Linked DNA regions of Homo sapiens: regions 1 and 2 are each linked to region 3. The links come from fine-mapping of genetic effects on gene expression. A gene starts in region 3. Each other region holds a variant in brackets. All regions are shown on one strand. Distances are from middle to middle.

Region 1 (10,135 bases), 71 kb before region 3:
GCTCCCTGCCTGTAACCCAGAGAGCGCAAGTCAGACCACATACTCCTGTAAGGGAGACATCCATTCAATAATTGATGACTCAATTTCAACCAAGACAATGCATATGACCAGAAGCCCAGACCTAGGCTAAGGGAGCAGGGAAGGCTTCCTGGAGGAAGTGTTGCCAGAGCTGAATGTTAAAGGATGAAGAAGAATTGATGGGATATTAATAGATGGAGTGATACATTAGTGTTCCAGGCATGGGGGAAGCAACACTTGCAAAGGCAGGCTGGGCAGGAACGTGGTGTGTGTGGCAACTGAAAAAAGGCCAGTGTAAACCAAAGCCCAGAGATCAAAAGGAGTATTTTATGAGTGGAGGCTGATAAGTTAAGCAGTTCTCTGTTAAGGACTTTGTCTTTAACTTAAAGGGGGGTGGTCGCCAGCCTGCAAGACGGTGTCTCATAATTTTGGCCTCCTGGTTGTCACGAACCTTGCATGATCCCCTCCCACAGTGTACCAGGGTTGGTATGTGTGACCCATCACAGATGGGAGTAGTGACCGCACATCCCTCCCGAGATTAGTTTATGAAAGACACTGCTGCCTCCATCTGCACTCCCTCCTGGATCACGTGCCTTGCGGGAAGTCATGTCCTGAGCAGCCCTGAGGACAGGCTCCCAGGCAAGGAATGAAAGCTTCCTGACAACAACCATCTGAGTAAGCTGCTGGAGAGAAAAAGCTGTTTTCCCTCTACCCATCTTAGATTCATTGGTTGGCTGGGCTCTGCAAATTAGACTGATAAAAGTCAGATAAACAAGAGAAAAACAAGCAGAATTGCATTAACATGTGCATGACACATACACATGGGAACACCCAGTGAGTAACACAAAGGGGTGGCTAGAACTTGGGCTTATATTGCATCTTAACAAAAGAACCATACAGTTTTAGAGAAGTGATAAGACAAAGGAAAAGGACTTTGAGCTTCTAGGGGTGGCAAATTATGGAAAGGCAAATACATGTGGGGGCTAATGGAAGAGAAGGACTCATTGGTAAGGTTTTTAATGAAGATTTCTCTGGTGCCCTCTCTGGGCTTATAAGGGTCTACTGTTGTCTCTAGTGACTAACTTCTGTCCTTCCTGGTAGGGAGAAGAGAGAGGGCACCTTTACAAACTTACATCGTGTTTCTGGCAAGTAGAGGGAGGGCAGATAACTCTTCTTGTATCTATCTGCTTTTCCTCCTTTGCCTTCAGCTCAAAATAATTCTTAAGCCAAAATGGCATATTTTGGGGTGGCATTTTCTGCTATCCTTCAGAGTCATCTTGGAAATGATGAAATCCAGCCCCAGTCAAGTCTTCAGAAACCACAGCCCCAGCTGGCATCTTGACCGCAACCTGATGAGAGAACCATAAACCCAAGCTGCCCCCAGATCCCTGACCCTCAGAAACCACGTGAGATAATACATGTTAGTTGTTTTAAGATGCCATATCTTAGGGTAATTTGTTATGCAGCAATAGGTAACTAATACGTAAGAGCAGCAACAGAATTAAACTTGCTAACTGTGACTTTGAACAAGTCACTTCACCTCTCTGGGCATCAGTTTCTCTCTTCACCTATAAACAGAGAGGAATAGGCTTGGGTAATAGAATGTTAGCCCAGGAAAGATTTTAGATATAATCTAAGAAGGCCACAAGTCCCTGAGGGCAGAAGAGTGGGCATGGATGGGGACCCAGAATGACCCAAGCTGCAAGGCAGCCGGGAGTGTAATAATAACAAAAGCCTAATATTTATTGGTCACTTACCCTGTGCTAGGCACAGTGCATGCATTATCTCATGTAATTCTCCCATCTAGCCTGAGTTAGGCACTGGATTGCCCCAATTTTACAGAAAGGAATGCGAGGCACAGAAACACTAAGTCAATGACAATCCCATCCTTCCATGCTTCTGAAAGTTGCAAATAAGTTGTTTGGGTCTAGAAGTAACTGCTACTAAATGCAAAGCAGAAATCACTTGCTCTTTTGCCATCCCCTTGGTTCCTCCCCAACACCACCCTCATCAGCATCCTCTAGAAAATCATCCCGACCAGATAATTATTAAAGTGGCCCCATTCTACCTCCTGGGTACAAATTCCAAATTTTCAACCCCACTCGGCCTGGGAGTTTGGAGGTGGGGGCCATAAATGGCAGTGGGATGTGGTGTTGATGGTAAAAGCCAAGCAGCAGCCACACAAGTGCCTTCCAATCATTCATTTCCTGACAAAACACTACAAAGATGGCCATTGAAAATTTCTCCAGACTCATTGGAATTTGGGGTCTTTGTTCCCATGTCTGGAAACACATCAACCTGCCAATTCTGGTAACAGAGTCTACGATGATGCTCTTGGCTTTCATTGTTTTTGGCAAAAGCACTGCTAAGTGCTGCTTTATTTTTTAGTTTTTGTCTCACTTTTCAGAGAAGATAAATCAACTGTAAAAGTGTGTTATGAAAACCAACTTGGCAAGCAAGATCTCCTGGAGAGGAGCAGGGGTAGCTTTATTTTCCATTATCTCAGTGTAAAACAAATAGATTTATCCTTCTTAGATGTTCTTGTAAGGTCATCAGGAGCACGTGATTTAAACCATGGCCCTTGGCCGACTCCAGTACAGAGCATGATCTAATCAGGCCTGGAATTCTCAAAGAAGAAAGGAAGAGAAAAAAATTGGCCTCATTATGAGGATTTCAAAGTTATCTCAGTACAAGGAAGTTTTTCCTCTCTGCCGAAACCTCCTGAGAATCCTCCAAAGGAAGCCTAATTCTTGACATGTTTTTAAGGTTCTCTGTTCCATTCACAGAGTGAGGTTAAATCTGGGCAGACCAGGCCCTTGTCTTCATTCTTCTCCCAACAGGCTCAGACCTTTCTCAGCTTGGTGGCTTTGGTTGGAATGTTAGGATTGAGCAACAGTCACAAAGTATTTAACCTATCTGAGCCCATGTTTCCTCATCTGTATGGCTGCCATCAGAACCCATACTGAGACTTAATTATTTTTGTGAAAATTAAACTAGGTAATTGATATAAAGTGATGAGCACATCGCCAGGCACGTCCCAACGAGTCATTTAACAGAGAAGCTATGGTGTGATCAAGGGTATAAGGATCACAGCTGGACATTCTGCATTTGTATCCTGGCTCCATCACTTACCAGCTACAGGCAAATTACTTGATCTCTCTAAGCCACAGTTTTCTCATCTGCAAAAGGGGGTGGTAATGGTATGTATCTGCTACTTCACAGGATTGTTAGATGGATGATATGAGATAATGCTTAGACTATGCCCAGAACATAATAGATAGTAAGTATGTGGTAGTTATTACTACTGTGACTTCAAAAAGGATGACAACAACCACCACAGCTACTATGACCAATGTGACCTCTCAAGTATTATTTTGGGCCCTTTGATTACTAAGCAAAGCAAATCATCTCTGTGTAACTTAAAAGAAAAGAAAATACATTAGATGACTCTGAGACAACTGAAAGAATCAACAGCTAAATTGAATGGCCAAGGTTTGGAAAGAACCAGGAAGCAGAAGAGCCCCAGATATGTCAGCCACAGGAACTAATGATGGACTCTTTAGGGTGCCACTGTCAGGACCCATCAGCTCCACCAGGTTGCCATCTTTGAGCCACTGGCCAAAGGAAGGTGTACACTCTGACATCCCAACCAAGACCAGTTCCAATGGGGAGGGATAATTATATAAAGGAAAGCCTAGTTGTTACTGAAAGCAGAGGCCAAAATACTGGGGAATCAGAAACAACTGATACCAGCCATAATTATGAACGCGCCTACCACTATTCCTACTAATATTAATATTTATTATAATATAATAGTTGCAGTAGTGCTCCTAGACCAAACCAAGGGTCAGGCTGCTTATTTTCACAGCCCAATAACAAAAATGCAGATGAACTGAGAGAAGGGAGTTTATGTCTATAACTGGGTACAGGGAGAAGGCCTGGAAAATATCGCCAGACCAACTCAAAATTACAAAGTTTTCCAGAGCTTATATACCTTCTAAGCTATACGTCTACATGTAAGTGTGCATTCATCGAAAGACGTAAGTGATTAAATTCTTCTAATCTATAACTAAGATCTGAATCCTGAACACCTTCCTCTGGAGCCTTAGTAAATTTACTTAATCCAAATACGTCCAGGTGCTGGGGTAATTACCCTTATCTTGTCCCCTGCGAAATCATGGAGGTTT[G/C]GGGAGTTCCTTTAGACCCCTAATAAGCTTCTTTGTGGAGGCCTGGGGAGTTTCTTCAGACCCCCAGTAAGACATGTTTAATCCTAAACGGCTCCTGTTAAGAGTTCCTTCGTTATCTTGTCATGCTTCAAAGCCCAGGAAAAGCCTAGGCAAAACTCCTGGTGGGCTTTTGTTACATTCCAGCCTTTGTATAGGGGCACTAGGTCTTTTGGCTTTTAATATTTAACTTAACCACTCAGTGCTGAAATAGTTGTTATGGAGGCCTGCCTGTTCAGCCTTTAGGGAGACCTGGCTTACCACAGTAGTTGCTGCTAATATTACCACAGTATTCCCCCCTTATCCTTGGGGAATATGTTCCAAGACCTCCAGTGGATGCCTGAAACTGCAAGTATTGAAGCCTATATATCTATACGTGTGTATATATATATATATATACACACACACACACATATATACATAGATATATATGTACACACACACTATATATACTGTTTTTTCCTATACATTCAAATCTATGATAAAGCTTAATTTATAAATTAGGCACAGTAAGAAATTAATAACAATAATAATAAAGTAGAATAATTATAATAATATAATGTAATAAAAGTTATGTGGGTGTAGTATCTCTATCTCTCTCTCTTTCTGTCACTCTCTCAAAATATCTTATTGTACTATACCAGGTAACTGAAACTGCAGAAAGAGAAGCCATGGTGATATGGTTTGACTGTGTCCCCACCCAAATCTCATCTTGAATTGTAGCTCCCATAATTCCCACGTGTTCTGGGAGGGTCCTGGTGGGAGAAAATTGAATCATGGAGGTGGTTTCCCCCATACTGTTCTCATGGTAGCGAGTAAGTCTCATGAGATCTGATGATTTTATAAGGGGTTTCCCCTTATGCGTGGTTTTCATTCTCTCTTGCCACCTCCATGTAAGACGTGCCTTTCGCCTTCTACCATGATTGTGAGGCCTCCCCAGCCACGTGGAACCATGAGTTCATTAAACCTCTTTTTCTTTATAAATTACCCAGTCTCGGGTATGTCTTTATCCACAGCGTGAGTGTGAAAACAGATTAATACACATGGATAAGGGGGAGCTACCATATTAATTCAAGAAAGGGCAAAAACAACAATGTCAACGAATATCCAACCCTGAACTTCATGAACACTGTCATTTCTAGATAATCAGACTAGCCAACAGGCTGGCACCATTTTTTTTTTTTTTTTTTTTTTTTTGAGACAGAGTCTTACTCTGTCGCCCAGGCTGGAGTACAGTGGCACAACCTCGGCTCACTGCAACCTCCGCCTCCTGGGTTCAAGCGATTCTTCTGCCTCAACCTCCTGAGTAGCTGGGACTACAGGCATGCACCACCACGTCCAGCTAATTTTTTGTGTTTTTAGTAGAGACACGGTTTCACCATGTTGGCCAGGCTGTTCTCGAACTCCTGACCTTGTGATCTGCCAGCCTCCGCCTCCCAAAGTGCTGCAATTGCAAGAGTGAGACACCGCGCCCAGCCCAGGCTGGAACCATTTTTATTTCTCTTTTGGAAAACCCACAGTTTTCCAAAATGCTTTTATCTTTTGGGAAAAGTATAGTTTTCCTGTGATAAAATGAAGACCATCGTTTCTTGTCTGCTTCCTAAATGTCTGACGCCATGCTAAACACTTGATATATTTTATCTCACTCACTGTATTGTGAGGTTGGCTCAGGAGAAAGAATTAACCATTGTTAAATAAAATGTAACGGAAACAATAAAAGCTTATGTTGAAGTCACAATAATTTTTATAATTGCTAATAATTAATACCAAGCTATGATCATTTTTAATTTAGCAATAAAACTTCTTTATATAGTGAGTCGGTCATTCAATTCACCAGGACACACAATTAAATCCATGCAGCTACTTGCCCTGGATCACGCTACGCAGAGTCAGTTGCCTGCGTGAGGAGCAGTTCAATCAAAAATCGATGCCTGCAATTTGGAAAACCCGTCCTTGTGATATATTAGTGGTGAAACAGGAGAAACAGATGCTCATTAGGCATGTAATGTTTGCTGAATTATTAAGTGATTCAATGCAAAGGACTTCTAGATACTGTTACAACGTTTAAAAATTCTTTAGGATTATTGTACGGCCTCTTTTTAAGACAGCATCAACTCTCAGAAATTGAATTGCTGTTAGATTCTTTAGCTTAATCCTTTCAAGGCTTGTATTTGAAACCATTGTTTGTTTTCTGTCTTAATGGAGAGCAGATCTTTATGGGAAGGCAATGTAATATCCTCTGAGCTGGAAATCCATTGCTGTGAAAGTCTGGGCTTCTCTCAACAGCCATCACTTGGCCCTCTGAGCCTCTCTCTGGAAGTCAATTTCCGCTGCCCCAGAGCACCACAGCCTGTCTCTTTAGTATCAAATCTTTTGAGAGAGATGCATTGTTCTTTTCATTATGAAGGATATGTGTTGAGCTATTAATATTAATATTAATATTTTTCCTAGCATGGTGATGCATTTGCACTGACCTTTCCATCCTCCATTGACATTTCTGCTGTGTCCAGCAAGACACACTTGTGCTATCAGGAGTAAGGGGCAGAGTTCTTTGCAGAGCTAATCGTGACTGGAAGGACTCATTCATCGGCCCACCATGCTAGACATCCTAGCCCTCCTGGTCACACCCAAAGGAAGCTACAGGAGAAACGGGAGGTGACTCTGAGAGTACTCATAGGAAAAGACCACACAGGTCACCAGGAGAAATGTAACTATCTAGGGATCAATGGAACATGCTTCAGCAAGGGAGCTATGGAAAGTCCTATTTCATAATGGCATTGAAAGTACTTAAATTAAAGACAAAATTTCCAGAGCAGAGGAATTCTCTCCATCCTCCCTGGGGCTGCTCACTCGGTACTGAAGTGCTTCTCTTGGCCCCAGATCCTGTCTGTAAACCTTAGGGCACAGAAAGAGGAAATGAGAGTGGAGTCCCTGGAGACAAACTTATTCTATTTAATCATTTTGTAAGAGTTTTAATCCTGCGCCTTTTCCCATCATTTAGTGCATGTCCTCCCACAGACATATGATAGAAATCTGATCATTTAATTCACACTAAAGTAGCTGGGGGTAAAAACAGAACTAGAAGGACAGAACAATGCCTAACGTGAAGGCAAAATAATAAGAAAAATAACCAATCAGTGCTCATAGTTGGGCATTATGTACCAAGCAATGCAAATGCATAACTTGATTGGCCTATTAACCATCTTAAGAGGCAGTAACTAACCATCTTAAGAAGTAGTAAGTAACTTCTGCATTTTACAGAGGGAGAAATAGTTGAAGCTCAAAGAAGCTATGAAGCTCAAACCCAGCAAAAAAAAAAAAAACTGCCAGAGCTGAGACTCCTGCCTGGATGCCCCCACCTAGTGTCAGCGTATCTCTGAATCATGTTAATAGAGCTATGGTTCTCCATCCTGGCTACACATTAGAACCACCTGGGCTGCTTTTTAAACTACAGAGGCCTGGAATCTTCCCATGACAATTAAGTCAGAATTTTGCGGAGTGGGAAGCTGACATTTTTTTTTAAAGACCCCGAAGTTGATTCTATGTGCAGCAGGGATTGAGAACCACTGAGACAGGGCACTGTACTGACGGAGGGGATCAGAATTAGTTCCTCTTTCTTTCCTCATGTCTACAATAAGACTATCCAACAACCAGACCTTCTTCACTCTTCCTCTGCCCCATCTGAGGCCTGAGTGAAGCTGCTGTCTCTGCCCTGCTGAGCTAAGGAAAATGTCAGGCCAGAACTAGAAAGAAGACCCAGCTCCCAGCCAAGAAACCAACAAATTTATCTCCACATCTGTCGTGGGAAGTCAAGGGAAGATCAGAAAGGGGGCAGAAGGAAAATGAAAGGGCACCAGATGAAATATGCAGTGGTCAGTCCAGAGGCTACTGGGGTGCTGGAAGCAAAGATTAACCTGTTGGGGGAAAGGACTGATTCTGGAAAGGGCAAGGGAGGGGGAAGCTCTGGAGCCGAGCAGTGGTCTGGGGGCCAAGAGAGCTGGGTTCTCACCTACCACAGTGGTCTGAGAGATTTCAGACGTAGATGACCTCAACCCAGCTACTCCAGGGTGAAAGGCGAGAGGTGTCTTTCCCAATGGGCACAGCTAGATTGATTTTTGGGGTGTTGCTGTTGTTGTTGTTGTTGTTGTTGTTTTTCCTTGGAATTGCAGTCCAGGCTTGACTGTCCATGCTAATGGAACGAGGCCATGTTGTACAGTAATGGGATTTTTCAGGTTTTTTTAAATTTTAATTTAATTTTATTTCAAGTGCCAGGACACATATGCAGGCTGTGCAGGTTTGTTACACAGATAAACATGTGCCATGGTGGTTTGCTGCACCTATCAACCCATCATCTAAGTATTAAGCACCACAGCATTAGCTACTTATCCTGATGCTCTCCCTCCCGCTGCTCCCCTCGACAGGCCCCAGTGTGTGTTGTTCCCCTCCCTGTGTGCATGTGTTCTCATGCTTCAGCTCCCACTTATAAGTGGGAACATGTGGTGTTTGGTTTTCTGTTTCTGTATAAGTTTGCTGAGGATGATGGCTTCCAGCTCCATCCATGTTCCTGCAAAGAACATGACCTCGTTCCTTTTTATGGCTGCATAGTATTCCATGGTGAATATGTACCACATTTTCTTTATCCAGTCTATCACTCATGGGCATTTGGGTTGATTCCATGTCTCTGCTATTGTGAATAGTGCTGCAGTGAACATACGCATGCATGTGTCTTTACAATAGAATGATTTATATTCCTTTGGTTATATACCCATTAATGGGATTGCTGAGTCAAATGGCATTTCTGGTTCTAGGTCTTTGAGGAATTGCCACAGTATCTTCCACAATGGTTGAACTAATTTGTATTCCCACCACAGTGTAAAAGTGTTCCTATATCTCCACAGCCTCGCCAGCATCTCTTGTTTCTTGGCTTTTTGATAATTGCCATTCTGACTGGCATGAGATGGTATCTTATTGCAGTTTTTATTTGCATTTCTCTAATCTCTAATGATCAGTGATGTTGAGCTTTTTTTTATGTTTGTTGGCCGCATAGATGTCTTTTTTTGAGACTTGTCTGTTCATATCCTTTGCCCACTTTTTAATGGGATTGTTTGGTTTTCTTTTTTCTTGTAAATGTATTTAAGTTCCTTATAGATTCTGGATATTAGACCTTTGTCAGATGGATAGATTGCAAAAATATTCTCCCATTCTGTAGGTTGTCTGTGCGCACTGATGATAGTTGCTTTTGCTGTGCAGAATCTCTTTACTTTAATTAGGTCCCATTTGTCAGTTTTTGCTTTTGTTGCAATTGCTTTTGACGTTTTCGAGCTAGACTGGTTTTTAAGTTTCCTTAAATAATCTCACATCTGGACCATGACAACAGCCTTCTAACTGGCCTCCTTGCCTGCTGTCTCTGCCCCCACCCCATTCCCTTCTCCACTGAGCTACAATGATCTTTCCTTCTCGACTGCAGGGCAGCTTAATCCTCTGTTCAAAAGCCTTCCAGGCCTCCTATTGTCCCCAGTATAAAGCCCAAATGCATTAATGAGGCTTAAAAACTCTGCAGGGTCTTTTATCTTCTTGCCTTTCTGTTCCTCAAACAAGCCGTTTTTGACTGCTCTGGGCCTCTGCACAGACTGTCCCTTCCTCCTGAAACCCTCTTCCCACTCCACTTTTTACTCATCCCTCAGGGATCAAGTTAGACATCACTTCCTTCAGGAAGTCTTCTCTGATTCCCCTTGAGTGTGTGAGTGCCTATTTTAGCTCTTATTATACTGGATTACAAATGCTTGTTTCTTAGTCAGCTTCCCTTGAGATATAAACTCCCTCATGTAGGAAACATTGCTATAATATATTTCCAGCACCCAGTTGTTTGAGGTTAAAATGTCTCCAGCATTGGA
Region 2 (10,135 bases), 26 kb before region 3:
GATAGTATACGTATACTTTACAAAGGCAGTTTCCATAGTAGTTCAAATAAAGAGAAATTGTGGAAAAATGGGTCATCACATGGCACCCAGTAGCATAGACATGCCAAATTTAAAAGAATTAATGAGGCAGCAGTCAATATCATGTTTTCATTTGAAAGGTAATTTGGTTTCAGCAAAACAACATCATCCTTCCCATTAAATTAAGGTTGTTAAATTGGCTTTGTAGTTTTGTTTGAATTTAACTTGTATTGAATTATATAATTTAACTTGTTTTTGGTTTTATATATATATCAGAGCCATAAGGATAAATTTGAAAGTAGCATTATAATTAAACAATTTAAGTAAACACTGGGAGGAAAAGTGGAAATTGCTTTTTTCTTTCAAAAGGCTCCATTTATTACTAAAGATTAAGGGGCAGAGTTAACATGAAGATTTTCAAACAGTGATTTCCCCCTAGACTATGATTCTAGTAGACCCTAAATATTTTTACCCTGGAAATACTTGTTTTAGATCTTGTCCACACTCACCACTCAACCTCAATGCCTACTCAGTTGCTGCCCTCTTTAGAAAAAGAAGAAACATGGAATTGTGTAATATTTGCAGCATTTCATGAACCAAAGAAATTTTGCCCAAGAGGATGGGTAGGTTACTCTCTGATTGCTAGTTGATTTCTGTTGCTTGAAAGGACAGGAAAGTGAAAAGTTCCTTCCTTTTCCTCTTGTCTTACCCATGACTGCAGTTTCTAGGGTAACTGCCTGAAAAGGGCAATAAACATTCCAGCCCCCTAACGCAAAGGTGTAGAAAGTGACAAATAGAGGGGTTCTGCAGCAGTGCGTACATCAGTCTATCTGGTGCTTGGAGATCCTTTGGGATGAGAGGTACTACATAACTTTAAGTTATAGAGACGCTTAATCAACCATTCTCCCACTGACCTGTGTTCTGTCCGTGATTTACTGGCACCTCTGTTTACCTACAGGATAATGGTCCTGGTGGGGAAGAGTATGAGGAAATAAATGACTAGGTGGGTGATTAATTGTCCTCGCACAACACAGGGTCTGGTACCAAGATCATTATTTCTATTGTATGACAAGAAAGAAAGAAGGAACAGTGAAGCAGTGTGCATAAATAATGGGAGAAAGATTTCTTCATTGCTCAGGAAAGCTTTGCTGTCCCATTCTTTTCAGACTTTCTGAAGTGGCCTGTCCCGTAGTGTGAATTCTCATCTCTCTCTTGAACCTTCAAAACTGGTCTTCACCAATCCATTTGACATGGGGCTAACAGATATTTGGGGGATAGTTTCCATCCTATTCACTACCAAATGCAAAGGGAGTATGGAACTGTTACTTTGCCCTTTCTGGAGCTTAACAATGCAAGCCACCTCCTGGGAGACAGCTCTGGGTTCCAAAAATAAGAGGCAGGAGAGAAGAATATATATTTGGTTTGAATGAAAACTATGAGTAAGGGCAGAGCAATATGGAGAAGAGTTCAGGACCCAAAGGCATCAGCTTTCAGCATTTTATTTTAATTAACTAAATCAAGCATTTAGCTCAGTTGTTCTCAATCCCAGTACATATTAGAAACACTTCACTTGGGAGCCTCCAAAAAAATACCAATGCCCAGGTCTCACCTCAGACCAATTAAATCAGAAAGAGGCCAATACCTTAAAATAACTGACCAAATGGAAATGAAATTCCTGGTCCTTGAAAGTAACTCTTTAGGAGACTTGGAGCATTGATTTCATCAGAGAATCCCTCGCCTGTCTATAGAGAGCAGCGGAGAAGAGCAAAGCACAAGCTGCTGTGGACTGTTCCAACTTCAACATTACTGCTTCCAATAGGAGGAAATAAATCACTAAAGAACTGTGCCTTATTTTAACTAGCCTGGGCTTTAATAGCCCATCAGCTTTGGTTTAAATGCTTTTCGATAGCACTGAGCATTTGACCTTAAGCAAAGCACTTGGATTCAACCTTGACATTTACCATAATTAGACAAAGAAGATTTTGCTCATTAAATATTATTTTTGTTTCTTGGACCATGAACTGAATTGTGAATGATCTCCAGTTTCAGGCAATGCAATGGCATGACCCTCAGTTCCTTGCAGCTGATAGCAGCTACAAGTCCCAATCTGCCCTCAACGGAAGGCAGGAGGCAAGGCTAGCATTTCCCACAGGTTCTCTTTGCTACTTGCAGCTACTGAGAAATGTCACAGAGGCTGGCATCCACCAAAGGGAGGATGGGTAGAGGGTCAGAGAGGTAGGCGGCCCCATGCCAGTTCTCATGGATATGAACTTTAATGCCATGGAATCCCCACCCACTGAGATAAAGGAGTGGATCATTTTTGGCAATGCCCACCCAGTTCAAGTAGAAACTCTTAACTCCCTCCTCATCACAGCAGTGAGCCTTTGGCAGTTATTTTGTAAAATATTGCCTCAATCTTCTGCCATGATTGATTGGCCCAGATGTTGCCAATTCACTCAAGTTAGATTGAACAAAGTTCTCCCAGGAACTGGAAATGGAATCAAGAAAAAGAGAATATGACTTCGGATAACCAGACCTGTACAATGGACATGTTCCAGCCACCATGCAAATTGAGAAGCAGAGAAATCAAGGCTCCAGGAAAAAAGAAGAATGGAAGAAGAGATCAGAGGCAAGAGACCCAGATTGAGTATGGCTTGTGTGTGCCCTGATCCCTGATCTTGGTGCTTCTCCAAGCCCCATTTTGTTCCTGTTGTTGGCTTCCAAAAAAACATTCCTGTGTCTTTATAATAAACTCCCCTGCAAGAAAAAGTGAGCTTTAACTGATTTGTTTGTTCTTTCATTAAGGCTTAAATTTTTTAGAGCAGTTTAAGGTTCAAAGCAAAATTGACAGGAAGATATAGAAATTCCTTCTGCCTCCACAAATGCACAGCCTCCCCCACTATCAACATCCCCCACTGGAGTTTTCCATTTGTTACCATTGATAAGCCTACATGAACTCATCCTTATCACCAGAGTTCATAGTTTACATTACAATTTACATTTGGTGGTATATGTTCTATGGGTTTGGACATAGGTACAATGCATAGTATCAGCTCTACTCGTTTCACTGCCCTAAAAATCCTCTGTACTCTGTCTTTTCACTCCTCCCTCCCCCTCAACCCCTGGCAGCCACTAATCTTTTTACTGTCTTCATAGTTTCCCCTTTCCCAGAACATGAATCACACAGTATGCAGTCTTTACAGGTGGGCTTCTGTCACTTAGTAATATGTATTTAAGGTTTCTCCATGTTGAACCGGTTTTTGTTACTTACAAACATGACCTAAGCAAAGCAGATGGGGAAACATCTCTTCCCTGTTCCCTTCCTCAACATTGTTTATCTTCCCTCCTTTCTTGATGTGGTGTCCGGGGACCAGGTCACCCACTTAAACCCAAAATCTAGGCTGGGCATGCTGGCTCACACCTGTAATGCCAGCACTTTGGGAGGCCAAAGCAGACAGATCACTTGAGCCCAGGAATTTGAGACCAGCCTAGTTATCATGGTGAAACCCCTGTCTCTGTGAAAAATACAGAAATTAGTCAGGCGTGGTGGTGCACGACTGTAGTCCCAGCTACTCAGGAGACTGAGGTGGGAGGATCACCTGAGCACAGGAGGTCAAGGCTGCAGTGAGCCATGATTGCACCATTGCACTTTAGCATGGGTGACAGAGCAAGACCCTGTCTCAAAAACAACAACAGCAACAACAAAAATCCAGATGTAATCTCTAACTCTCTGGAAACTCCACCCACTGAGATAAGATAGTGGATCCTTTTCGGCAACATCTTTCCAGTTCACAATGAGACCCACAACTCCCTTGTGATGGCTAATTTTACGTGTCTACTTATCTGGGCCACAGTGCCCAGATATTTGGTACATTATTCTGGATGTTTCTGCAAAGATGTTTTTTGGATGAGATAGATTTTGAGTAAAGCAGATTACCCTCCATAATGTGGGTGGGCCTTATCCAAACAATGGAAGGCCTTAATAGAACAAAGACTGGCCTCTTCTCCCCAAGCAGAAAGGAATTCTGCTAGCAGACTGTCTTTCAACTCAAACTGCATCTCTTCTCTGAGTCTGCAACCTGCCGGCCTCCTCACGTCTCCCATCTAATTTTGGACTCACCAAGTTTCCACAATCATGTGAGCCAATTCCTTAAAATCTCTCCCCCTCTCTCTGTCTCCATATATTTACATATATAGCACACATCCATCCTGTTGGTTTTGTTTTTCTGAAGAGCTGGAGAACTCTGACTAATACATTCCTCCTCGTCCACAACAGCGTGCCTCTGGTTATTATTGTCTCAATTCCCTCCTTATATTTATTTGTGATGTTTTAGCATTGATATTAACTGACAATATGGAGGGAGTGTGGTGAAATGGAATGAACACTGGACCCCATTCAACTAATTAGTAGGGGTAATTAGTTGGGCAAGTCACCAATCCTGAGCAAGCCACTTAACTTCTCTGAACCTCCTCCTAGACTATAGTATTCCTGAGGGTCCTCCTAGTTTCATAACATCTCAATGGGAGGTGAGCCACTCCCTGTTCTGTTGGCCTTCACCAAGGCTTGGGACACACAGCTTGAGGTGCCTGTCCCTTTCTTTTCCATATTTTTCCTTGGTTGGAAATCTTGTTTCTGCTCCTATAATCCTTTTGTCATTTTGGACCTGGGAAAGGGAAGGCAAAGGGTAAAGAACAAGGAAGAAGGAGGATATGAGGACAGTTCTTGCTGGAGAGAAGGGGAAGATAGAAGGTGCTTTCCGTGGAGGGAGGAGCTGAGAAGAGGGCTGAAGAGAGGATGGGCAAGTGTGACAGTGTCCTGAATTCCCTCCCACAACCAAATCAAAACCCC[T/A]GGCTGGGCTGGGTGTGCGCATGCGCTAGGAACTTAAGGAAACTTTGGAGAAACCTAGCAAGACCATGGCTGGTGCTCTGCTTCCCCAGGTACAGCCTGGGAGAGCCACAGCCTGTGGGAAAAGTCTGCATTTCCAAAGGGTGCCGTGTACATCAGGTTTGGGTACTAATGGGCAGCATGGGCAGAAGTGGGTGCCTGTATAGCCAGGGCCTGAGATAGCCTCATTCTAGCCCACCCTAGCTCTCTCTTGGCTTCAGCAGAGCACAAAGAAGATCTGGAAAGTTCTCAGGGACCAATAAAAGGGATGGCGAAAGTAAAGAAGAATTAAGAATTGAGAAGCCTGCCTGCAAGTGCTCACTGAGACACAAGATGGGGAAACCCTGTAGCAGAAGCCACAGGGAGGTCTGGCCAGGTCTGGGGGTCTCAAGGAGCTTGTGACCATGTCTCAAAGGACCAGTATCACCAGCAAAATCTCAGGTGGCTGGAGTCAGCAGCAGAAGATGGCTGAAGTTGTATTCCATGGGCTGAGAGAACATTCACCAGGTCCACCAGGCTTCACATTGAGGCAAGGAAGGCTATTAAGGCCAGAAGCTGGGGCCCAGAGAACAGCAGCCCAGAGGACCACACACAGGTGCAGAACTCCTCCTCTCTGCTGTGAGGATATTTAAGGCTCTGCTTCCCTCCACTTCAGGTGCCATCTTGAAAAAGAGTAGAAAGCAACTTCTTGAAAAGAGAGAAACAGACTTGGTAGGAACCACTTCAGAATATTTGCCCAAAGGGAACTATTTTGAACTGGAAGAGACTGGGTTCTCTTTTATTGGCATGTCTATTTTTATTTGTGTTTTTCCCCCTACTTCTATGGGGGCTTCAGAGCAGAAGACAATCCATTACTAAAACAAAAGAAGCTCCTTTCTGGTTTTGCACACCTGAACTCTAGTGTGTAAAGCTTAGCCATAACAGAGGATTGAGAAGGGGAAGACTTTCTTGCCTCCATGCCTTGGAAGGAGAGGTGCTCTTCTCCCACCCTGCTGGGAGAGAGAAAGTCAGGGATGGCTCCAAGGATGCCAGCTACTTCTAGGATGTGACTCACTGTCCCTAAGGATACATCACTGTGATAACAAGCCAGAAATATGAGCATTGAGTTGCAGAAAGATGGCTTGAGTCCCTCCCTCCTCCTGATGCTATAGCAGGTTGCAGAAAGAACTGGGAGAGGCACCAGGGATCCTAGCTTATGGATGAAAGAGCTAAGCCAGGGAGTGGCCTCTCCCTGGTTGCTAAACCAACTGAGGGGCTCAACAGGGAGAGTGTGCCCTTGTCCCTGCTTTTGTCAGTTTCCTTACCTGTTACACTGAGACACTTTAGGAGTTGTTAGAGCTGAGGTTTTCAGAAGAGGTCCCAGGCTTGCCAAGTCGACAAGAGGAAAGATTGGAGGGTAGCCCATGGGAACCAATACTGCCTCTGCCATAGGTATGACACAGCTCAAAATCAGCTTGGAGAGCTCTCTGTGTCCAAGTGTGGTCCGGTTCTGCCTATTCTGTTGTCATCTTATATTACTCTTTTATCCCCTTAGACCTGTCACACTAGTCCATGGCTTTTCCAACCAGACCTATTATTTCTTGAGAATTATCTGAAAGTGAAAAGTTAGTTCTAATACTATCTCTTATAATGTACTTGCTAAAAATGCATCCCTAAAAACATGGAGCTTTCTACAATCTATCTATCTATCTATCTATCTATCTATCTATCTATCTATCTATCTATCTCTACCACCCTAGCTACTTCTGTTCTTACTAGCTACTGCTCAGACCCATGCAAGGACTTGAATCACAATTCCCCCCACGAATTCTGCAAATTTCATTTCTGTATGGTCATCACTCTTGTGTGCCTACAATGTGCAAGGCACAGTAGTAGACATTTGAAATATATCTTATTTAATCCTTACAATAGTCATGAGATGAGGGCAATCAGCCCCATTTTACAGAAGAAATGAAAACAGGAAAGGTTAGAAAGTGAGTAATTTGCAAAGGCAGGAGTCAAAAACATGGGTCTATCTTTAACCAAAGCCCATGCTCCTTCCATTATAATGCACTGCTTCCTTATTGCCTGCTCTTACCCCAAAGCTGCGTGTGGCCACACACCAATGCCTTCTCTCCATGCTGCTGCTGTTGCTTCTGCAGCTGCAAAATGAGAGCTCCCATGTAACCCTCTGATTTTTCACTGTCATTTTTGCGGAAAAATAACAACTTCTGGATTAAGTTCAGAACTGAACTGGACTTCACTAACTGGACTGAACTGAAAAAATCTCACTCTTCTTCAGAGACCCTTCATTTCTTGTTTCCATTATCAATTGCATCCACAACAATAGTGAAAACACGTCTGTTTATGTGTATGTGCAATATATATTCCTTTAGGTTGTCGACAAAAAGAAGACATAGAGAGAATTGAAATGTCTAAATGATTATATGACAGTTTATATTATGCCCCATTGCTGTCTCAGGAGAACTGTCCAAATATCAGTTACAGGGAGAAAATGACTTCACCAGAATGTAAATGCAAAACCAGCCAATGCTTTCCAGAATTTTGTCAACATATTTTAAACATCCTAATTATTGGACATATTACAGTTAGTCCATAAGGATGGCAAAGACCATTTTCCTTGTGCATCCTATTTCATCATTTATATTGGTAGAATGTGTACCTTCACTTTTAGAATAACGTCCCAGTTTTGTCCTTCCTGAACTTTTCCCTTCTTGTCACTGGTTATTTCTCTGTATCCTTCAGGTGGTTTTTGCTAAGTTCTTGAGGTATTACTTAATCGTGCCTTTCTGTCTTCCACGTTCTGAAGCAATTGAGAAGTATACAAAGGAATCAGAGGTCCTAATAATAGTGGTAATACTGGCTACCTGGTCTGGTGAATGGAAACTGTCCCTGTGATCTGAATGAGTTTTCTATTCCATACTGAGTTATACTTAGCCACCTTTTCATGGCCACAGCAGCTAAACAACTGGAAGCCTTTCCTCTTGAGGGCAGAGCTTGCCTTGGCAGACTCACCACATGAAAGAGGCAGGAACAGAAGGAAGAACCTATACCAGCTTCAGGCCATCTAACCTAAGAAAGGGAGCCACAGAGAGTATAACACTTAAAAAACCATTGCTGGCCAGGCACGGTGGCTCACGCCTGTAATCCCAGCACTTTGGGAGGCCAAGGCAGGTGGATCATGAGGTCAGGAGTTTGAGACCAGCCTGACCAACATGGTGAAACCCCATTTCTACTAAAAATACAAAAATTAGCTGGGCATGGTGATGCATGCCTGTAATCCCAGCTACTCAGGAGCCTGAGGCAGGAAAATCGCTTGAACCGGGGGGACAGAGGTTGCAGTGAGCCAAGATCGCACCACTGCACTCCCGCCAGGGTGACAGAGCAAGACTCCATCTCAAAACAACAACAGCACCAACAGCAAAAAAAAAAAAAAATATATATATATATGTAATATATATATATAAATATTTATATTTATATATTTAGATAAAAAATATTTATATTTTATATATATATATATATATATATATATATATATATATATATATATAGCTACAAATGCCTCCCATCCCTGTATATATGCCCCCGGCAATGTGGGGTTGCTACTGTTCCCATCACTTGCCTTGGCCAATGGAAAGAAGCAGAATGATGTTAAGCAATTTCTGAGCCAAGGTCTAAGTCAAGCAACCTCTGCATTCTTTCTCAAAATTCACCTACCAAGTGAAGAAGCCCAGGCTAGCTAAACCAGTGGAATGGCCATGTGGATAAAAACCAAAGTGCCCCAGCTGACACTTCAGCCAACTGCTAGGCCTGTAAATTACATCATCCAGGATCAGGCAACACCAATCAACATGCCAAGTGACCACAAATATGTGAGTGAACCCAACAAACACCACAGAGAATGGAAATGAACAATCTCAGCTGAACCCTGCCCAAATCACCAGGCCACACCAGTCAGATAAGTCCCTCTGGTATAAGGCTAGACAAGCAATGTAGCTTTAATATTGTTTTCTACAGAATATGAGGCATGGGGTAATATCCCCACTCAAGAGTTACGAATTCTACTGCTGTCGTGTATGCCAATGCCTTCCATAGGCACTAGAAAGGCACTTTAACCATTGACCATTATTCAAGGATCCATTGAAAAGTAGAGTATATGTTTCCTATTGCTGCCATAACAGATTGCCACAAACTTGGCGGCTTAAAATGAAACAAATTGATTATGTTATATTTCTAGAGGTCAGAAGTCTGAAATGGGTTCACTGGGCTAACATCAAGGTGTCAGCAAGGACACCTTGCTTCCTTCTGGAGGCTCTGGGGGTAAATCCTTTCTCTTGTGATTTCCAGCTGCCAGAGGCTCCATATATCCCTTGACTTATGACACTCTTCCATCTTCAAAGCCAGCAATGGCCAGCTGAGTCTTTCTCAGCCACTCTGACTTTTCTACCTTCCTTTTCCACATTTAAGGACCCTTGTGATTACATTGATCCCATCTGGATAATCCAGGATGCTCTCTCTATTTTAAAGTCAGCCGATTAACAACCTTAATTTCGTCTCCAACCTGCATTTCCCTTTGCCATATAACATAACATATTCACAGGTTCCAGGGATTAGGTCAGGGCATCAGCAATAGGAAACATATACTCTACTTTTCAATGGATCCTTAAATAATGGTCAATGGTTAAAGTGCCTTTCTAGTGCCTATGGAAGGCATTAGCATACACGATAGCAGCAGAATTCATAACTTTGGGGTGTGAGGGCATTATCTTATCTACCACAAATAGTGATCTCAGAAAGAGTAGCATCATACTACTCAGGAAAAATTAACGCTCAGTTCTTTTTTTTTTTTTTAGACAGGGTCTCTCGTTCTGTCACCCAGGCTGAGTGCAGTGGTGCGATCACAGCTCACTGCAACCTCAACCTCCAGGACTCATGGGATCCTCCCACCTCAGCTTCCCAAGTAGCTGGCACTCCAGGCATGCGCCACTATGCCTAGCTAGTTTTTTATTTTTTGTAGAGACAGAATTTCACTATGTTGCCCAGGCTGGTCTTGAACTCCTGGACGCAAGCAATCCTCTTGCCTCAGCCGCCCAAGGTGCTGGGATTACAAGCATAAGCTGCTGCAGCCAGTTACACCCAGTTCTTTACTTCCACCTCGCCTAACAGTTTCTAAGTGCTCTAAAAGTAGGGATAATAAGAAGTCATATTTCATGGTATGTTTTGGAGTTG
Region 3 (10,065 bases):
TTGGAGTTAAAGCATCCATTTTTTATTTGAGTGTGAGCCTGGTCTAGGAGAGATGGCAGAAGAATGGCTCCAAGGCTAATATGGTTAATGATTATGATGGAGATCCCATGAGCAGCCGATATTTCACTTGCAACCATCTCGATCCGGGCTTTGCTGGCTGCAGTACTTTCTTTTTTTCACAGCTACTTCCATTAACACCCACCGCCTATGATAGAACCATTATGATAATATCTCTGCTTTCGGCAGCCTCAATTGGTCTTGACACATTATCACCCTAAGAGCTTAGCCACGTCGCACTAAGTCCTATTTATAATAACCCTTGGCAGGAGCTACCAAAATAAAACCTGGTACTTATGAACTACCTTTCATCTGAGGAAATCAGAAAGCTTTACAAGCTTAATTAAGCTTCAGCATCTATCTGACTGATGAGATATGTGGGGCCTTGGAAAGCTGAGGAGGCACAGAATCACTAATTGTGCACTGGATAAATCTCTGGGTGGCAACGAAGAATAGAAATCAACAAAGAAGAACGAGAGTCACCTCTTTTAGTGGGAGTGTTTGTTGAGTGAATTTTTTCAGGGTGGGTTGAGACCAACAATCATAGGTTATTGATGAAGGGGCCATGGAGGGTCTCTAATGAGGTGGCTCTCAATCTAGGGCGGGGGCCTGAGATTTACTTCTTTTGCCAAAAGAGGATTAAGCTAATTCAACACACTCAAGGGCTTTCAAGGACAAAGAAATTGAGCTCCTGAAAGATGTGGTAATCTGCCTGTGGGCACACAGCTGTTGAGCTCACACACTGTTCCCTCTACTTGGCTGAATCTCCCACCCCACCTGTAAATCTCCACTTCCCCTTCAAGACTCATCTTAACACCTGCCTCCTCGGTGAAGCCTTCCTGGACTTCCCTGGCAGAATCAGTCACTCCCTATTCTATGCTCCTGCGTGTGCTTTCTATTTCCATAATATCTACAGCAATTGATATTTATTGAGTCCTTTCTAAGTGCTTAAGGTACATTTTATCCATACAATAATGAGGCAGGTACAGTTACCATCTCCATTCTACAGATGAGTTAAGTGGTCCGGAGAGGCTAAGTGATTTTCCCAAGATGGTACAGCTCATAGGTGCAAGACTCAGCCTGGCTGCAGAGCACATGTTCCAAAACATTAAACCACACTACTTTCCCAGTAGCCCAGTTGTGATGGAAGAGATCTGTTTGTTTATAAGTCAGCCTCCTTCCTTAGTTTGTAAGCTCTGATGTGAAAGGGTATGTCATTCAGGAGAATTTGGGCTGCAAACAACAGAAACCCCAACTCAGAGTAGCTTAAACCACAGGAAATCTAGAGGAAGGGCATTTCCAGAGTTGATTAACTTGGGGGCTTGGTGACATCAGCAAGGATCCAGGTTCCTTCCATCTCTCTACTCTGCCTTCCTGATTGTGTGAACGTAGTTCCCCTTGCATTAACATGACTTCCTCAGTTCCAGGCCTCCCATCCAGCCTGAACCATGCAGAAAAGGTGCCATATCTTTCTTGTGTCTCTGTAAGAGTACAGACAACTTTTCCAGAAACCTTCCACTGGGCTTCCCCCGTAACATTCACTAGCCAGAATGGTCTCACATGCCTAAGCCTTAACCAGTCACTGCAAGGAATTGAAAGCACCATGACTGGTTCAGCCCAAACAGGATTCAGCATCCCTTAAAGGTTAAAGGCACAGAGGATGAAGGTAGAGACCTGCCAAAAAGGAGGAAGGGAAGGCGGAGGATGAAAAGAAGACAACAAACGTTCCCTGATGCAGGTGTGAAGGAAGATCTGATGCCCAATCACTTATTCCTCAGTCCTTTGGCCTTTACCATGTGGGCAACAAATGTCTGTGGAACTAAATTATAGTAGAGAAATTCATGTCTCCAAATGCCCAGTCCAGAATTCTTACCATCATACTCTGTAACCAGGACTGAAATATGTGTTGGCGACTGCTCTAAAATTTACTAAATTGATTCACCGGTGCTCCAACCTTTAGATTCGAGTCTTTAACACTAGTGTCTGCAGGAACCTTTGCAAAGCAGGTCCAAAAGAGAGCTAGGTGGAATAAAGAGAATCGTAAAAATGTGTCTCATCACAATTTACAAGGTTCTTGTCAACCATGACTTTCTTTCCAGAAACACAATGTGTTCTTAAAAGTGGGACTTGTTCAAGCAGATAGGTTCATTGCATTCAAAGACTACTCTATTTCCTGACCTCCTTCTAGCTCTCCAGTAGGATTTATCTGGAACCAGGCATCAATATACCCACCCTTGACAGCCAAGAATGTGAGAATGAGATCAGTTAAGCAATTTTTGGAAGACCCAGATCATAGTCAAATAGAGATACCAAGAAAAGGAAACTGATCCTCAAGCAGAAACATAATGTACCCTAGGGTAGAAAAGACGGGAAGGAGGGAATGGCTTAGTTCAGGCTTACTATAACAGAGCGCCATTGGCTGGGGTAGTTTAAACAACAAACATTTGAGCGGGCGCAGGGGATCACACCTGTAATCCCAGCACTCTGAGAGGCCAAGGCGGGGGGATCATTTGAGGCCAGGAGTTTGAGACCTGCCTGGCCAACATGGAGAAACCCCATCTCTACCAAAAATAAAACTAAAAATAAAAAAAATTAGCCGGACGTAATTGTGGTGGCACACACCTGTAATCCCAGCTACTCGAGAGGCTGAGGCAAGAAAATTGGCTGAGGCAAGAAAATCAGTGTAGGTTGCAGTGAGCCGAGATTGTGCCACTGTACTCCAGCCTGGGTGATAGAGCAAGACTCTGCCTCAAAAAAAAATATATAGATAGATACATAGATAGATAGATGATAGATAGATAGATAGATAGATAGATAGATAGATAGATAGAGATATCTATCTATCTATCTACATATAGAGAGAGAGAGACAGAGAGAGAGAGGTTGGGAGGTCCAGGATCAAGGTGCCAGAAGACTGGGTGTCTAGTGGGGCTACTCTTCCTTGCTCATAGGCAGCGGTATTCTTTCTGGGTCCTCACATGATGAAAACAGAGCTGGAGAGCTTACTGGGGTCTCTTTTATAAGGACACTAATCTCATTTATGAGGGCTCTACCCTCATGATTTGATCACCTCCCAAAGGCCCTACCTCCTAATGCCACCATATTGGGAGTTATGATCTCAACATATTAATTTATGGTGCAAGGAGGAACACAAACATTCAGTCCGTAACAGAGATACATACATAATAAAATTATAGCCCAGGGGGTTAGAAAACTCCCCAGGGTCAAAGAGTAGTGGCCAATGTAGGAGTCATACCACTTCCATGGAATATTATACTCATCTCTGACATCTTTTGTCCCCTCTCTTCCTTTTTGTAGAAGCACGTGGAAGGGTACATTTGGACGCCTCTGTCTTTTCCAGGGGCTTATAACTCAGGAGATCCAGAAAAGGTCAGGATTGAAGGAGGCAGACTAGTGAGAGGAAGCCAGAAGCTGTCTGCCCGAGGCTGGCTGGAGGCTCTGGGCATTTAACAAGAGTTACACTGGGAACCTTGGTAGAAGCCAGGTGGTCCAGCTCCATGGGGAAGAAATATTGCAAAATTATCAGGAAAGACACCATTTCAGGCATAAAGCAGGTGCATTGAGCTGGAACACCACTTGTATTAGGTCTCTCAAGACCAAGTGAGACTTGGTGGAGGACAGCAACAAGAGAAGGAAGACATCCCCATCTGAGCACTGAAACAGTGAAATAGAAAGGAAATAGAAAGGAAAAAGAACAACAACAGCTATACTATAGTGAACACTTAGATGCTCTTTTAAGCACTTTAAATATAAGCACTAATTTAATCATCACAATAATCTATAAGATTTGTTCCTATTACTAGTAATCATGAGATATTGTATATTGTTATAATTTTTGTTAGTAATACTAGTAATACTGTTCTTATTGCATTTTACAGATATATACACTGAGGCACAAAGGGGTTAAGTAACTTACCCGAAGTCACATGCCTGGTAAGTGGCAGGACTGGGTTTTAATGAGACAATCTGGCTTGACAGTTCACACTCTTAACCATTTCACTTGGGAACAAACCCCAGAGAACACATGAAACCAAAATTTCATCTCAGTTGAATCTATTTTGATTTAATGTAATAATTTCTGCACCTGACATTTCCCTAGCAGTTTATAATTTACAAAAGGTTTGGTCCCCATCATTTTGGAATCGCAGCCCTGCCACTTCCTTGCTGCATGACCTCATTCCACTGATTGGCTAAGCTTCCACTTCCCCATCTGTAAAGTGGGTATAATAATACTTTTGGGGGGGTTTCATGAGATAAAGCACATGCAGGGTTTAGCTCCACACCGAGCCCATAATAAGAGTTCAATAAGTGTTTGCTGCCACTGATGCTGTGGTTATTATTAATATTTCACTTGAGCTGCATGACAACCCTGTGAGTTAGGAAGGATTTATTAACTTATTTCTCAGGTTCTGAAACTGAAACTCACAGAAAGTAAATAACTAGAACAAGGAACAAGCCAGAAAGTGCTAATGCCAGACTTGGAAAATATTCCAATTCCAAGCCTCCTCCCCTGCTTCCAACCCTCAACTCCACCTCCTCTCTTTCCCCCAGGAGGCACCATTACATGAACCAGATCATTCTTCAAACAGGACTGTGGAAAAGTTTGAAGATATTGGAAGTTCAGGCTCAGGGATAAATTCTAAGGAGTATTAAGAAAGTCATAAAAGTGCAAATGGATTTCTCATCCCCAAGCAACTGCCAGAGGGCAGAAGTGACTGAGGTGATTAACTATGCTACCCCACAGAGCCAAAGTGGTTTGGCCACAGGTGGCAGGGGAGTGTCCTCAGTCCAGAAAATAAAGGAGAATGGGAGTATTTTCATCTAACAGCTAAACAGAGGCATGTTTTTAAACCCTGTCTCAAATAATCAAATACCATTCCAAAACTGCATTCCACTTTGAGGAAGGGGCAGTGTTTGTTCCTTTGGTTTTCTGTATTTCTGCATTTCAATTAATTTGTTAAAGTTTAACAAATTAATGCATCCTGTTCTGGTACATGATGCATTCAGTCCTATGGCTATAGGCAAAGGGCTGCTCAATGATAAAATTAGTCCATCTTATGAGGTGTACGATCTTAGTCAATTTATTTAAGTCTGGGTTTTTTTCATCAGTACCAGCAATATGGTTAGGAGATTCCAGGATTTCTAGTCTCTGGATTTGAAGCCAGCCCTCCCAGAATTAAAATCATGTGCTTCCCCTCACATCTATCATGCAAAACCCTCACCAATATTTTTTCTTTTTCAAATGAGTGGAAGTTCTTATTTTGTATTCTTTAATCAGCTGAACAATAACTCACAACCGTTGGACAAAATTGTTTTGCATTATTTAGTAGTAAGGTATTTAATTTAAAAAAACTTGATACATGCTACTTGCATCTCATTAGCATTCTAACGATGTATTCAGCAAATTGTTGTTGAACACACACTAAGTGCCAGGCATTGTGCCCAGGCAGCCATAAAACAATGGACAAGACAGACTCCCCAGGAAGTTTACAATGGTAGTTACTTACAGCTTTTGTTAGCAGCCAAAAAGACAGAGACCCCAACTACTTTGGATTTCTCCATATCCCCTAGGACATAGCTTGGTACACAGTAGACATTTAATAGTCTTCCGAATTTAACTTCAACAATTAATCATCCAGTTAAAAATGTCTACTTTTCTCCAATTAGATGATACTCTACTTATGCCCACTAGGTGGCGATCTTGCTTATAGTTTGCCCACGCTGAAAGAGGCTGCCTTTCAAATAAATACATATATATCCCAGTAGAAGTTAAACCAAAAGACAAAAAAATTAAATTTATTGAGTGCTTATTTAGTGTAATATACTATGTTAGGTGGTATAAGAAATAAAAAAATAAGACATAGTCCCTGCCTGCTAGGGAAAGATGAGGAGGGGCTTACATAGGCCAAAAAAATAAGACCTTTGAATGGATTAATATATTTCGATGCAACCATATGGGAGCCATAGTAATCTCATTATCAGATAAGAGTTATAAAATGGCATGGTATAGCCACCATGTGGTTGGGAACAGATTCAACAGTTCATCCAGTATGTACTTAACCACACCAGTGAAAACACTTGACTGTATCCTGGGTCAGTGCTGCAATACTCCAAATGTGGTTTTTTGATGCCTCTGCTCAGCCATAAACATAAGAGTGTCTGCTTTATCACCCTGGAACGCTCTATCACCCTAGAACGTTTTTTCTTTGGAGAATAAAACATAATCAGTGCCAACTGATGAGGTAGTCCAGTTGAAAACCCCCATGTGCACCTGATGGGAAGATGAAAGGAGAGAAAAGATACACACCATGTAAGGAAACAGATTTCAAACTCTGGCCTTTGAGAGGTGGATTCCACCATGCCCCTGATCTTGTGTCTACCCTGGGAATCTCAGTGTGGATCTGGGACTCATTCTGATACAGAGAGGTAAGGGAGGGCCGACTGGCATCCAAGTTTTCCTGGTAAATGTAACCCAGAGGTGGCTGGAAGATGTGTTGGGGTGAAGAGGTTGTTCATTTTGTTTTCTTTGCTCCTTCACCACCTCCCTCCCCCACCACCACCACCATTTCTTTTTCCCTTAAATCGTAAAAGCAGTAAATCAAATGCAGTATGGGATTGAGGTTTTTTTCCTTTCCATTTGAAAAATCCTTTTAATTGAAAAATCACATTTGGGGAACAAAGTGGTCAAATGACAGTGAATTTCAAACTTGAGAATGCTGACTTGATTAAAAAAAAAATACTGATCTTTCTTAATGGAGGGAAAATCAAGTGCATGCGGCCAGGAGACCTGAGTTTGACTTTTAGCTTCGCCCCTTGCTAATTGTGCAATCCTGAGCAACACCCATCCCTTCTCTGTGCCTCAGTTTCCTCATGGACAAAACGGTATCATTTCTTTCGAAAAGTCGTCCCTGACTCCCCTCTCCCCAACACGAGGTTGGATGGCTATAATCTCTCTTAGCAACCTGAGAGTCCCACTGGAATGTAAATTTCAGCAGCACTGGGACCCGGATCTGTGGATTTTGCTTCTGGTAAGCAGAACCAGAACTGAGGGGCAGTCGCTGTGTTGAATGGATGCATGAATGAATGGGAGATGGCCTAGGTGTTCAAGGGGCACGTGCACAGCGAGGCTTCATTCCCTGGGAGTCCGTTGGGAAAGGCAGAGCGGCCAATACTGATTGGTGCTGATGTGCGAGCTCGGAAAAGGGAGTGTCGGTTCAAAGTTGTTGGCTACAGCGGGTTCCTCTTTCCGCTGGAATCACATCCTCTGTGGCTCGGAGACATTCCCAGAGATTTACATAAAGCAGCGTGAATCACCCAGACAGAAACTGAGAAAGCAAAGGGACCCTGCCTGATCCTAGCCTGGCGGAGCTCGGAAAGAGGTGGAAATCTGTCTGAAGTTTGCAGGAGACCCGCGCTGCCTAGGCAAAGGGACCCGGCGACCAAGACACCCCCGCGAGGGCCCAGGGCGCGTCCCTCCCGCCAGGCCCCAGACTCCGGCTCTGCGCCACCCCCTCCTACGCCCCGGCGCGGGCGCAGCCAGTCCGGCTTCCTCCAGGCCCCCAAGTCCCGGACCGAGTGTGGGGCCGCCTCTCCCTCTCGGAAGGAGCCATCGCCGCTTTAAGTGGAAGAGGAGAGGAAGGGGGCGGGGGAGCGGGGGGCGGGGAGCGGAGGCGGAGGAGGGGGAGGGGGATCCCCCTGGCTCCCACGTGGTCCGGGCGCCTGTGAATCGCGCCCACCGGAGGGTCTCACAGCGAAATACAAAAGCAGCTGGGAAGCGGCGGGGACTCGAGTTCCCAGCGCCGGGCGGAGCGCCGGACAGAGCCCCGCAGCGCCCCGCGGCCGCGATGGGGCCGAAGCGCCCGAAGCCCCGGAGCCCACAAACTGCCGGGCCCGCCTCGCCGCCGGGACCCGGGTGCCTGGGCTCGGCTTGAAGCGGCGGCGGCGCACCGGCACAGCCGCGGGAGCATGGGCAGGAGGATGCGGGGCGCCGCCGCCACCGCGGGGCTCTGGCTGCTGGCGCTGGGCTCGCTGCTGGCGCTGTGGGGAGGGCTCCTGCCGCCGCGGACCGAGCTGCCCGCCTCCCGGCCGCCCGAAGACCGACTCCCACGGCGCCCGGCCCGGAGCGGCGGCCCCGCGCCCGCGCCTCGCTTCCCTCTGCCCCCGCCCCTGGCGTGGGACGCCCGCGGCGGCTCCCTGAAAACTTTCCGGGCGCTGCTCACCCTGGCGGCCGGCGCGGACGGCCCGCCCCGGCAGTCCCGGAGCGAGCCCAGGTGGCACGTGTCAGCCAGGCAGCCCCGGCCGGAGGAGAGCGCCGCGGTGCACGGGGGCGTCTTCTGGAGCCGCGGCCTGGAGGAGCAGGTGCCCCCGGGCTTTTCGGAGGCCCAGGCGGCGGCGTGGCTGGAGGCGGCTCGCGGCGCCCGGATGGTGGCCCTGGAGCGCGGGGGTTGCGGGCGCAGCTCCAACCGACTGGCCCGTTTTGCCGACGGCACCCGCGCCTGCGTGCGCTACGGCATCAACCCGGAGCAGATTCAGGGCGAGGCCCTGTCTTACTATCTGGCGCGCCTGCTGGGCCTCCAGCGCCACGTGCCGCCGCTGGCACTGGCTCGGGTGGAGGCTCGGGGCGCGCAGTGGGCGCAGGTGCAGGAGGAGCTGCGCGCTGCGCACTGGACCGAGGGCAGCGTGGTGAGCCTGACACGCTGGCTGCCCAACCTCACGGACGTGGTGGTGCCCGCGCCCTGGCGCTCGGAGGACGGCCGTCTGCGCCCCCTCCGGGATGCCGGGGGTGAGCTGGCCAACCTCAGCCAGGCGGAGCTGGTGGACCTAGTACAATGGACCGACTTAATCCTTTTCGACTACCTGACGGCCAACTTCGACCGGCTCGTAAGCAACCTCTTCAGCCTGCAGTGGGACCCGCGCGTCATGCAGCGTGCCACCAGCAACCTGCACCGCGGTCCGGGCGGGGCGCTGGTCTTTCTGGACAATGAGGCGGGCTTGGTGCACGGCTACCGGGTAGCAGGCATGTGGGACAAGTATAACGAGCCGCTGTTGCAGTCAGTGTGCGTGTTCCGCGAGCGGACCGCGCGGCGCGTCCTGGAGCTGCACCGCGGACAGGACGCCGCGGCCCGGCTGCTGCGCCTCTACCGGCGCCACGAGCCTCGCTTCCCCGAGCTGGCCGCCCTTGCAGACCCCCACGCTCAGCTGCTACAGCGCCGCCTCGACTTCCTCGCCAAGCACATTTTGCACTGTAAGGCCAAGTACGGCCGCCGGTCTGGGACTTAGTGTCACCGGGAGGAAAAGAGAGAGATCTGGGGCTGGGGTATGGATGATGGGGGGAAGGGCGGTCGCCTCTGCCACTGTCAGGGACCAGCCGGCCAACGCCCACCCGCAAAGGTGTCTAAAAACTTCAGCTTTTCACCCACCTGCCCCTTTCTTTCAATCCCACGCTGTTTCCTTTCAAAGTTCTGGGAGGACGAACTCACCGAGGCGAGAAGTGTAACATTCTCTCCACCCAGCTTATAAAAGGATTCTTTACTGTGCCAGCACGGGGATTGGATCCGAAGAAACTGGCTACTGGGGTTTGGCCCCCGAGTGGCCGTCCCTGTGGGAGATGCACCCCATTCTTGGGCCCCCCCTCATTCCCTTTCCGAAAAAGGAAAACTTGCGTTTGAGCCGTTGAGCTAATTCTGCAATTTTCTACCAAACAGAGCGCTGGTGGCCCCGGAGCAGGGCTGTGACATTGGCTGGTGGAGCCCCCTTCCTGTGTTCTCCCTTTGTTCCAGCGCCGCGATGGTGAGATCACTGTTCCAAGCAGGGGGACGGCTCGCGATAGGACAAAGAGAGCAGGACCTCCAGACTCTGGGGAGCCCTGCAGACCTTGACAATTTGCCTGACTCATTCCTGACCTCTTGTCATTTTGGCCTGAAGGCTACAAATTCAGGGTCAGCTGTATGCACTAAGTCAAATAATGAATTTCTTCCTCCCTCTCGC

Which allele goes with the higher level. Positions count from the first base shown, and alleles are read on the strand shown. Sizes are in standard deviations (SD) of each study's normalised expression. Not every link is listed here.
As copies of A replace T in region 2, the expression in fibroblasts of the gene that starts at base 7,867 in region 3 goes up (small effect, 0.15 SD a copy in GTEx).

What was found. PIP is the estimated chance that this variant, and not a neighbour inherited with it, causes the effect. A credible set is the group of variants that fine-mapping cannot tell apart.
Region 1: its variant is the best candidate, but not a certain one, in a credible set for the expression of FJX1 in fibroblasts (GTEx, PIP 0.60).
Region 2: its variant is the best candidate, but not a certain one, in a credible set for the expression of FJX1 in fibroblasts (GTEx, PIP 0.74).

What each region holds. Positions count from the first base shown.
Region 1 is chr11:35,539,372-35,549,506 of GRCh38, forward strand. No RefSeq gene overlaps it. Among named protein-coding and RNA genes, the nearest start is that of PAMR1, 19 kb to the left of the region's middle. The variant G/C (reference allele first, on the strand shown) is at 4,206.
Region 2 is chr11:35,584,606-35,594,740 of GRCh38, forward strand. No RefSeq gene overlaps it. Among named protein-coding and RNA genes, the nearest start is that of FJX1, 29 kb to the right of the region's middle. The variant T/A (reference allele first, on the strand shown) is at 4,868.
Region 3 is chr11:35,610,594-35,620,658 of GRCh38, forward strand. It overlaps FJX1 (four-jointed box kinase 1), which reads left to right and starts at 7,867. Exons shown (of 1, transcript NM_014344.4): 1 at 7,867-10,065. The coding sequence starts at 8,044. The coding sequence ends at 9,357. RefSeq lists silencers at 7,455-7,544, 7,575-7,904, 7,726-7,887, 7,985-8,054, 8,075-8,334 and 1 more and enhancers at 8,187-8,821, 8,822-9,456.